Linked DNA regions of Homo sapiens: region 1 is linked to region 2. The links come from fine-mapping of genetic effects on gene expression. A gene starts in region 2. The other region holds a variant in brackets. All regions are shown on one strand. Distances are between the middles of the regions.

Region 1 (4,383 bases), 140 kb before region 2:
CCCTCCCTGGGCGACGGCAGGGCTCGGAGGTGAGACCAGCAGTTTGGGTTCCATGAAGCCTCTGAGGAGCCCCAGGGTGGAGGCAGGAAAGTCGGGTCACCACCAGCTGTGCGCGAGCCATCTGCACCATTACTGCCAGGGTGGTTCATAGAAACTGCTGAGGGGAAGGAGACAAGGAAGGACCTGGTGGCCCGGGGTGGAGAAGGGGAGGGAGCTGGTGGTTGGAGCTCTAGAAACAGATCCACCTGGAAGGAAGTGGGGAGGGAGCTAAGGAGGGCGGCTGGCTGGGGAGGGGGGTCCTGGCTGCCGAGGGAGGGACCCTCCTCTCCTGGAGGTCCTGAGTTGGGGGTGCCTCCCAGAGGGCACCAGGGACCCACGAGGGCACACAGGTCCACGTCCCAAATCCCTGCTCTCCGCCTGGGCGTGTGTGCAGAGGTGTGCGTGTTGTAGGGTGGGAGAGGAGCCCCCTCACCTTCTCTCACCTGGTCCTGCTGAAGGAAACCGGGACAGAGTGGTTGGGCAGGCACCTCAGTGTTCCCTCTGGGTCTCTCTTCACTCAGGGCCAAAGAAACCCTTCCAGCATCGGTGACTGGCAAACCCCGCCCAGGAGCTACAGGGCTTTCCAGAGCAGGTGTGGCTGGGCTGCGGGAGGGAGGTGAGCCCGTAGCCCCTCCTCCCTCCCCATTGCCGGCCACAAAGTCCATCTTGTTATCTACCCTTAGCTCCTCCACCTGCACCAGGCACCCCAAGCCTGGCCATAAGGGTGGGGGAGAGAGGCAGGACAAGGTCGCATCCCCCATCCGGGTCCCCGAGGGTCTTCCTTGGGGAACTGTTGTGATGCCCCAACAGAAAGGGGCCCCCACTCTGCTCCGCTCCTCCAGGCAGCCAGGAAGGCCTCCAGGAAGGCAGCATGGAGGCGGGGGACAGAGTCCTGCTAGGCCAGGCTCTCGCTGACTCTGAGTCCCCTCAGAGTCTTATATTTATTTATTAATTAATTATTAGTAGTATTACTTTTTGAGAGAGTTTTGCTCTTGTTGCCCAGGCTGGAGTGCAATGGCGTGATCTCAGCTCACTGCAACCGCCGCCTCACAAGTTCAAGGGATTCTCCTGCCTCAGCTTCCCAAAGTGCTGGGATTACAGACGTGAGCCACCTCGCCCTGCCTATTTCAAAAAAATTTTTAAATACAAATGGGCCCGGTGTGGTGACTCACACCTGTAATTCTAGCACTTTGGGAGGCCGAGGCAGGCGGATCAACTGAGGTCAGGAGTCAGAGACCAGCCTGGCCAACAAGGTGAAACCCCGTCCTTATAAGAATACAGAAATTAGCCATGGCCCAGCACAGTGGCTCATGCCTGTAATCCCAGCACTTTGGGAGGCCGAGGCAGGTGGATCACCTGAGGTCAGGAGTTTGAGACCAGTCTGGCCAACATGGTGAAACCCTGTCTCTACTAAAAATGCAAAAATCAGTGGGGCGTGGTGGCATGCACCTGTAATCCCAGCTACTTGGGAGGCTGAGGCAGGAGAATCGCTTGAACTTGGGAGGCGGAGGTTGCAGTAAACTGAGATTACACCATTGCACTCCAGCCTGGGAAACAAGAGCAAAACTCTGTCTCAAAAAAAAAAAAGATGGATGAGGAATTTTACTGAGAGAAGAGGCAGGCACCACCAGAGCTCCCAGCAGTCCTAACAGGAGGAAAGAGAAACCAGCAGCCACTCCCCAGCTTCAGCTAAGCAGCAGGAGGCTACCTACCAGCTACGGAGCTCCCTTCAAACAAACAAACAAAAAAATCAGATCAAGCTTCCCACTCTAACCACCAGTTTGCAGAAAACAGGAGGACAAAGTTCCCAGTGAAACGACACCATGAGGCAGCAATCAGCCCAGTCCAGAATGTGAGCCCGTCCACAGGACAAACGACCTGTTTCCCTGTGATTCAGCGACAAGGAAAAAAGAAACAGGGTGGGGCGGGGAAGTGGGGAGGTGAGCTGTCATAAAATATGCAAAACAGGCCAGGTGTGGTGGCTCACGCCTGTAATCCCAGCACTTTGGGAGGCTGAGTCGGGCGGATCACGAGGTCAGGAGATTGAGACCATCCTGGCTAATACAGTGAAACCC[C/T]GTCTCTACTAAAAATATATATAAAAAAAAAATTAGCCGGGCGTGGTGGTGGGTGCCTGTAGTCCCAGCTACTTGGGAGGCTGAGGCAGGAGAATGGCGTGAACCCCGGGGGCGGAGCTTGCAGTGAGCCGAGGTCACACCACTGCACTCCAGCCTGGGCGACAGAGCAAGACTCCCTCTCAAAAAAAAAAAAAAAAAAAAAACGCAAAACAGATTTGGGGCTCAGAGGCTTAGACTTTCCAACTCCATGAATGTCCCACAGATGTTCCAAAGTCATGGGAATGACCTGGGCGCAGTGGCTCATGCCTGCAATCCCAGCACTTTGGGAGGCCGAGGCAGGAGGATCACCTGAGGTCAGGAGTTTGAGACCAGCCTAGCCAACATTTTTTTTTAGTGAAACTCCATCTCTACTAAAAATACAAAATTAGCTGGGCATGGTGGTGCACGCCTGTAATCCCAGCTACTCAGGAGGCTAGGGGAGGAGAATTCCTTGAACCTGGGAGGCAGAGGTTGCAGTGAGCCGAGATGGTACCACTGCACTCCAGCCTGGGTGACAGAGCAAGACTCTGTCTCAAAAATAAAACAAAGTCCTGAGAATGCAGGACAAACCTTCATTGCGTAACTTTTATTGTCGCTGACCCCAGCCGCGTAAACGCTGTGGTAGCATCCTAGGACCTCCACTGTGACAACTAAAAACAACCCCCACAGATTCCCATAACTCCCCCAGGGGGACAGCACTCCGGAATTCAGGACTGTTGCCCTAAACCCTCTGTTTTCCATTTCAGCTTTCCCTTACTGGTGCACGCCCCCATGCTTGGCCACCACGGCCAATTTCAAGCTACCAATAAGAGATCATTGAACATGGAATTGGAAAGAAACGCACAGTAATACATTGTTCTATAGTAAGTCTTCTTACTATGGTAAACACTTACCAGCCAGTTCTCTGGAGAAAAAAACACACTGTATGTTAGTATCTGCCAATCTGTGTGCCAATCAATGTATGTGCTCACTGCAACCTCCGCCTCCTGGGCTCAAATGAGTCTCCTGCCTTGGCCTCCTGAGTAGCTGGGACTACAGGTGCCCGTCACCACACTCAGTTAATTTTGTGTTTTTTTGTAGAGATGGGGTCTCACTATGTTACCCAGGCTGGCCTCGAACTCCTGAGCTCAAAGCGATCCTCCTGCCTCAGCCTCCCAAAGTGCTGGGATTACAGGTATGAACCATCTTGCCTGGCCTATTTACATTTATTATGTCTGTGTAATAGGCTTGCTATAGAACAATGTAATACTGTGCATTTCTTTCCAATTGCATGTTCAATGATCTCATATTGGTAGCTTGAAATTGGCCGTGGTGGCCAGGCATGGAGGCATGCACCTGTAATCTCAGCTACTCAGGAGGCTGAGGCAGGAGCATAGCTTGAAGCCAGAAGTTAAAGACCAGCCTGGGCAACATAGCAAGACCTTGTCTCTCTACAAAAAATAAAGAAAATTAGCCAGACATGGTGGCACATGTCTGTAGTCCCAGCTACTTGAGAGGCTGAGGCAAGAGGAGCCCAGGAGGTCCAGCGTCAGCTATGATCCTGACGCTGCACTCCAGCCTGAGTGACAGAGAAAGACCCTGCCTCTGAAAAATTAAAAAATAAATCTGGGCACAGTTGTTCACGCCTGTAATCTCAGCACTTTGGGAAGCTGAGGCAGGCAGATTGCTTGAGACCGGGAGTTCGAGACCAGCCTGGCTAACATGCTGTAACCCAGTCTCTACTAAAAATACAAAAATTACCTGGGTGTGGTGGTGCACACCTGTAGTCCCAGCTACTCGGGAAGCTGAGGCATGAGAATTGCTTGAACCTGGGAGGTGGAGGTTGCAGTGAGCTGAGATCACGCCACTGCACTCCAGCCTGGGTGACAGAACGAGACTCCATCTCAAGAAAAAAATAAGAAAAGTTTTTTTAAACACAAGTGTGTGAGGGTGGCTGTCCAGGGACACAAGGACACCGAAGAATGGTGATCAGTGCTTCCAGTATGGGGAAAAGTGGAACTCATTTATACAGGTAAAAATGGAGAGGTCAAACGCAGTGGCTAATGCCTGTAATCCCAGCACTTTGGGAGGCCAAGGCAGGTAGATCGTTTGAGGTCACGAGTTTGAGACCAGCCTGGTCAACATAGTGAAGCCCTGTCTCTACTAAAAAAAAAAAAATACAAAAATTAGCTGGCTGTGTGGTGGTGAGCACCTGTAATCTCAGCTACCTGGGAGGCTGAGGCAGAAGAAT
Region 2 (4,383 bases):
AAAAAGGCTCCCAGGTGCCTGGCTGGGGTGGGGGTGAGGCCTTCCCAGAGGCGGGAACCCTGGAGGCGAGCTGGCTTATCTGTTTATCTCTGGAGAGAAGAATTGCAGAACTCAGAAGTCCTGGATTAGACAATGTTGAGTAAAGAATGCTGGGGCCTCCCTCACGCAGAACTGGGCCAGCCTGGTCACAGCTCTCAGCCCAGGAGGCCCAGAGACATCAGGAAGCTTGTCTAGGTCACACAGCAATCAGGATTGAACTGCTCCTGTCTCTGGAGTCCCAGGCACCCAGGAAGGCCTCTTCATGCCCCAGCTTCTGGCTGAGGGAGGGGAGGGGAGGGCCTGAAACAGTGGAATGAAATGAGGCGGCCAGGCGTGGTGGCCCACGCCTGTAATCCCAGCACTTTGGGAGGCCGAGGCAGGTGGATCACCTGAGGCAAGGAGTTCAAGAACAGCCTGGCCGACATGGTGAAACCCTTTCTCTACTAAAAATACAAAAATAAAATTAGCCGGGCATGGTGGCGGGCTCCTGTAATCCCAGTTACTTGGGAAGCTGAGGCTGGAGAATCACTTGAACCCAGGACGCGGAGGCTGCAGTGAGCTGATATCGTGCCATTGCACTCCAGCCTGGGCAACAAGAGCGAAACTCCATTTCAAAAAAATAAAATAAAATAAGAAAGGAATGAGGCAACTGGGCTGAGAACAGGTCTTGGTTGTCTCCCTCCTCACAGCCCACGGTGGCTGGAGGGGCCCAGGCTGCCAGGAAGGTCTCACTTGGCAAGAGTGCAAGATACGAGGGGTTGGAGATTGTCTCAGCAGTTTGCTGTGTGATCTGGGGCAGGCTGCCTGCCCTCTCTGGGCCTCTGCGCTCCCCTAAAAGATGGAGCCACGGGGAGGGGTGTAAAGGGGACATCACCAAGGCTGTGAGGAGCAGGAGAAACCACAGGCTCTGGCGTGAGACAGACCGGGTTCAGATTTGCTTCTAGCTGCGTAATTGCGGTCATGTCGCGTTCCCTCCCAGCCTCAGTTTCCCCATCTGGAAAGCAGGTACTGTCAAAGTGTCTGACTCATCCCCAGGAAGAGGGAGTCACGCTGAGCTCATGGAAGTGGGCAGTGCTCTGCCCTAACCACTGTTAGGAGACCTGAAGAGTCCAGAGCCTGCCCTCTCCGCCCCAAGTGCCCTAGAACACAGCTTCTCCCTCTGGGGGTCTCAGCAGCATCCCAGTCTCTCCCATTTCACCCCCAAGCACCCCCGTTATTTCAGGGCTTGCATGGGGTGTCCTGGGTACTACAGGCTGTTGTGTTTCCTGAGCAACTACTATGCACCAAGCTGCCTGCTCTCTTCCACTGCTCTATCAGGGAGACACAGGGCTTGTGGGCCCCTTTGACAGACAGAAAAACTGAGGCCCGGAGAGCGACAGGGACACCCCAGGCATCCCCACTGGTGACTCAACACGGTCGGGTCCTCACTCCCTTCTCAGGAGGGACCTATACACCACACTGGATGCCCCAGCCCAGCCCAGCCCCTCCAGCTAAGTCTGGGCCAGGCCTGCGGCTGCGGGTGGCTGGAGGCCACCCTTGCCACAGTCCCCGGCTCCCCCAAACAGCCACCTCCTCCCTGGGATCTCCTGGCTCCTGCCCAGGTCTGGGCCTCACCTGATTTCCGAGATGTCATCTTCATAGGTGTCCCACAAGCCCGGGATCTGGGGCTCGGCGGGCCCGTCCATGGCAGGTGGGTGAGGGTGGGGAGGGGAGGACGAGCAGGGAGCAGGCGGCACAGAGGCCAGGTGTGCGCAGCGACAGCGTCTGCCACCTGGGGAGCCCGCCAGGTGCCTACTCCGTGCCCGGCCCAAGGGGAGGGGCAGCACCCAGCCGGTTCTCCCAGCTGCTACCCACGCCTCCAACAGCGGGGAGAGGCCAGAGGGAGCCACCCTGCTCTGAGGGCGGGGAGGAGCAGTGATGGGCACGTCCTGGCGTCTGGTGCTCAGCTGGGGGCAGAGTCCAGGGGGTCAGTGCCAAGCCCACGCCAGAACCTTCCGGGCTGGCAGTTCTGGGCCTGTGGGCACCCACCTGGAGCCCACGTTGCTCATTTGGGAAATGGCGCTGATCTCGCCCATCTCAGCGAGTTCATTCATTCATTCATTCATTCACTCATTCATTCCTTTATTCATTTGAGAAATATTTACTGAGCATCTCCTGTCTGCCAGGCGCTGTTCCAAGCACTAGGCCACCGCTGGGGAAGGGGCAGACAGAAACTTGCCCTCACGGGCTGACGCGTAAGGGGCACCCTGGAAACAGACACAGGGACAGAGGCACAGCCAGGACCACGGCAGCACAGACAGGGCGGGAGCCAGGGAGAAAGGGAGAGGGCAGAGGGCATGGGAGACAGAGACCAGGAGGGGACTGAGATGCACAGGGGCCAGAGACCTTGAGAGACGCAACAGAGATACACGGAGGGCGGAGACAGAGACACACGGACACCCAGAGGAGACAGAGACACACAGGGGTCAGAGACCCTGAGAGACCCAGCAGCGATATACAGAGGGCAGAGACAGAGATACATAGAAAGGTCAGGGACAGGGAGAGACACAGATATGAGAGACAACTGCCAGATATGGTTGGGCGTGAGAGTCTGAAGGTCACAGCCCTGGTTCAAATCCCAGCTCCAGTGCCTCCCAGCTGTGGGGCCGGGAACCATCTTGCTCATAGGCTCATCTTGCCTTAGTTTCCCCATCTGTGAATGGCACCCATCGGGCTGTTGTGAGGACTGAGGGAGACACTCTCAGCTGCTGGTGGAGGATCTGGTACACAGTGAGCTCAGCATAGACGGTGTTCTCTTCTCTTCTGCCCCCACCCCAAACCCTGGCCCTCCCCAGCTGTTGGTCCCTGACCCCTCAGAGTCCTGGAGTCATGAAGCCAGTCTCCCCACCAGTGGTGGCAGGTGCCTGTAATCCCAGCTACTTGGGAGGCTGAGACACGAGAATCGCTTGAACCTGGGAGGTGGAGGTTGGAGTGAGCTGAGATCACATCACTGCACTGCAGCCTGGGCGACAGAGAGAGACTCCATCTCAAAAAAAAAAAAAAAATGCCAAAAGAAAGCCTGTGCAATGGCTCACGCCTGTAATTCCAGCACTTTGGGAGGCCGAGGCGGGTGAATCGCCTGAGGTCAGGAGTTCAAGACCAGCCTGGCCAACATAGTGAAACCCCATCTCTACTAAAAATACAAAAAATTAGCTGGGCATGGTGGCAGGTGCCTGTAATCCCAGCTATTCGGGAGGCTGAGGCAGGAGAATCACTTGAACCCTGGAGGCAGAGGTTGCAGCGAGCCAAGATTGTACTGTTGCACTCCAGCCTGGGCAACAAGAGTGAAACTCCATCTCAAAAAGAAAAAAAAAAAAAGCCAAAACAAATAAAATTGTATATACTGACCAATTATTGTTGCATAGGTGAGGGGGATGGAAGACGTCAGACTCACCTAACAGATGCAGGAAGGGGGCCCAGAGAGGTAATGTGGCTTCCCCCAGGGCACACAGCACTGCCCGCCTTCACTCTGATGGTAAGCAGAAAAGGAGGGTTCTGGGGTATCCCATCTCTCAATTCACCACCCCAAGACCCGTCTCCAGGAGGCTGAGCTGTGGGAGCACCCGCCCCTGCCCCCAGCCACTACCGAGTCCACATCCTCAACATTCTGCCTTGATACTTTCAGTGTTAAGCCTTGATGTTCCTGCTGATAAAAAGGCTCTCTTGCAGGGTGGGTGGAAGGGTGAGAGGGCCAGGCATCCCCCTCTGAGGCTGAGTGAACCCCTCTGATGTCGGAGGTGGGGGACTGAACCATGACACCCCACCAGGCCTCCGGCTGGGCTGTCTTCACCTTTGTTTTCTATTCAATGACCCTTTGTCCCTGGCTCTGTGTGCTGCTGGGGTGGGGGGTTAGGGAGAGTCTGGGGAAGGGAATGCCCAGGTCCTTAGGGATCCTGAGAGGGAAACTCGCAGGCAGGTGCGGAGGCATCCCCGGGGCACAGGAAGGTTGGGGAGCAGTAGGGCCTGAGGTTGTGCCTGAGTGGGCAATGGAAAGAAACTGGCCAAACTAGGCGGCCTAAGACCCAGGGGAGGCTCCTACTGCAGGGCCTTTGCCCTTGCTATTCCCGCATGTTCCTGATACCTGGGAGCTTCGTGGGCTCCTATCGTCTGACTCTGCCCAGTGTCACCTCCCCCAGGCTCGTCCACCAACTTCTCCATTCCTCTTTCCTGTTTTACTTTTTCCCATAGCACTCGTCACCATCTGACCTCCTAAATGTTTTGCTTCTTTGTCTTGTTTACCATCTATCTCCCCACTAGACTGTCAACCCCATGAAAGAAGGGCTTGTTCTATGTCAAATCTGCGGT

The links. PIP is the estimated chance that this variant, and not a neighbour inherited with it, causes the effect. A credible set is the group of variants that fine-mapping cannot tell apart.
Region 1: its variant is the best candidate, but not a certain one, in a credible set for the expression of SULT2B1 in lung (GTEx, PIP 0.77).

Annotation. Positions count from the first base shown.
Region 1 is chr19:48,692,179-48,696,561 of GRCh38, reverse strand. It overlaps FUT2 (fucosyltransferase 2 (H blood group)), which reads right to left and starts at 591. Exons shown (of 2, transcript NM_000511.6): 1 at 473-591. RefSeq lists enhancers at 1-192, 757-1,320. The variant C/T (reference allele first, on the strand shown) is at 2,115.
Region 2 is chr19:48,549,594-48,553,976 of GRCh38, reverse strand. It overlaps SULT2B1 (sulfotransferase family 2B member 1), which reads right to left and starts at 1,805. Exons shown (of 7, transcript NM_177973.2): 1 at 1,654-1,805. The coding sequence starts at 1,724. RefSeq lists enhancers at 1-72, 1,861-2,385.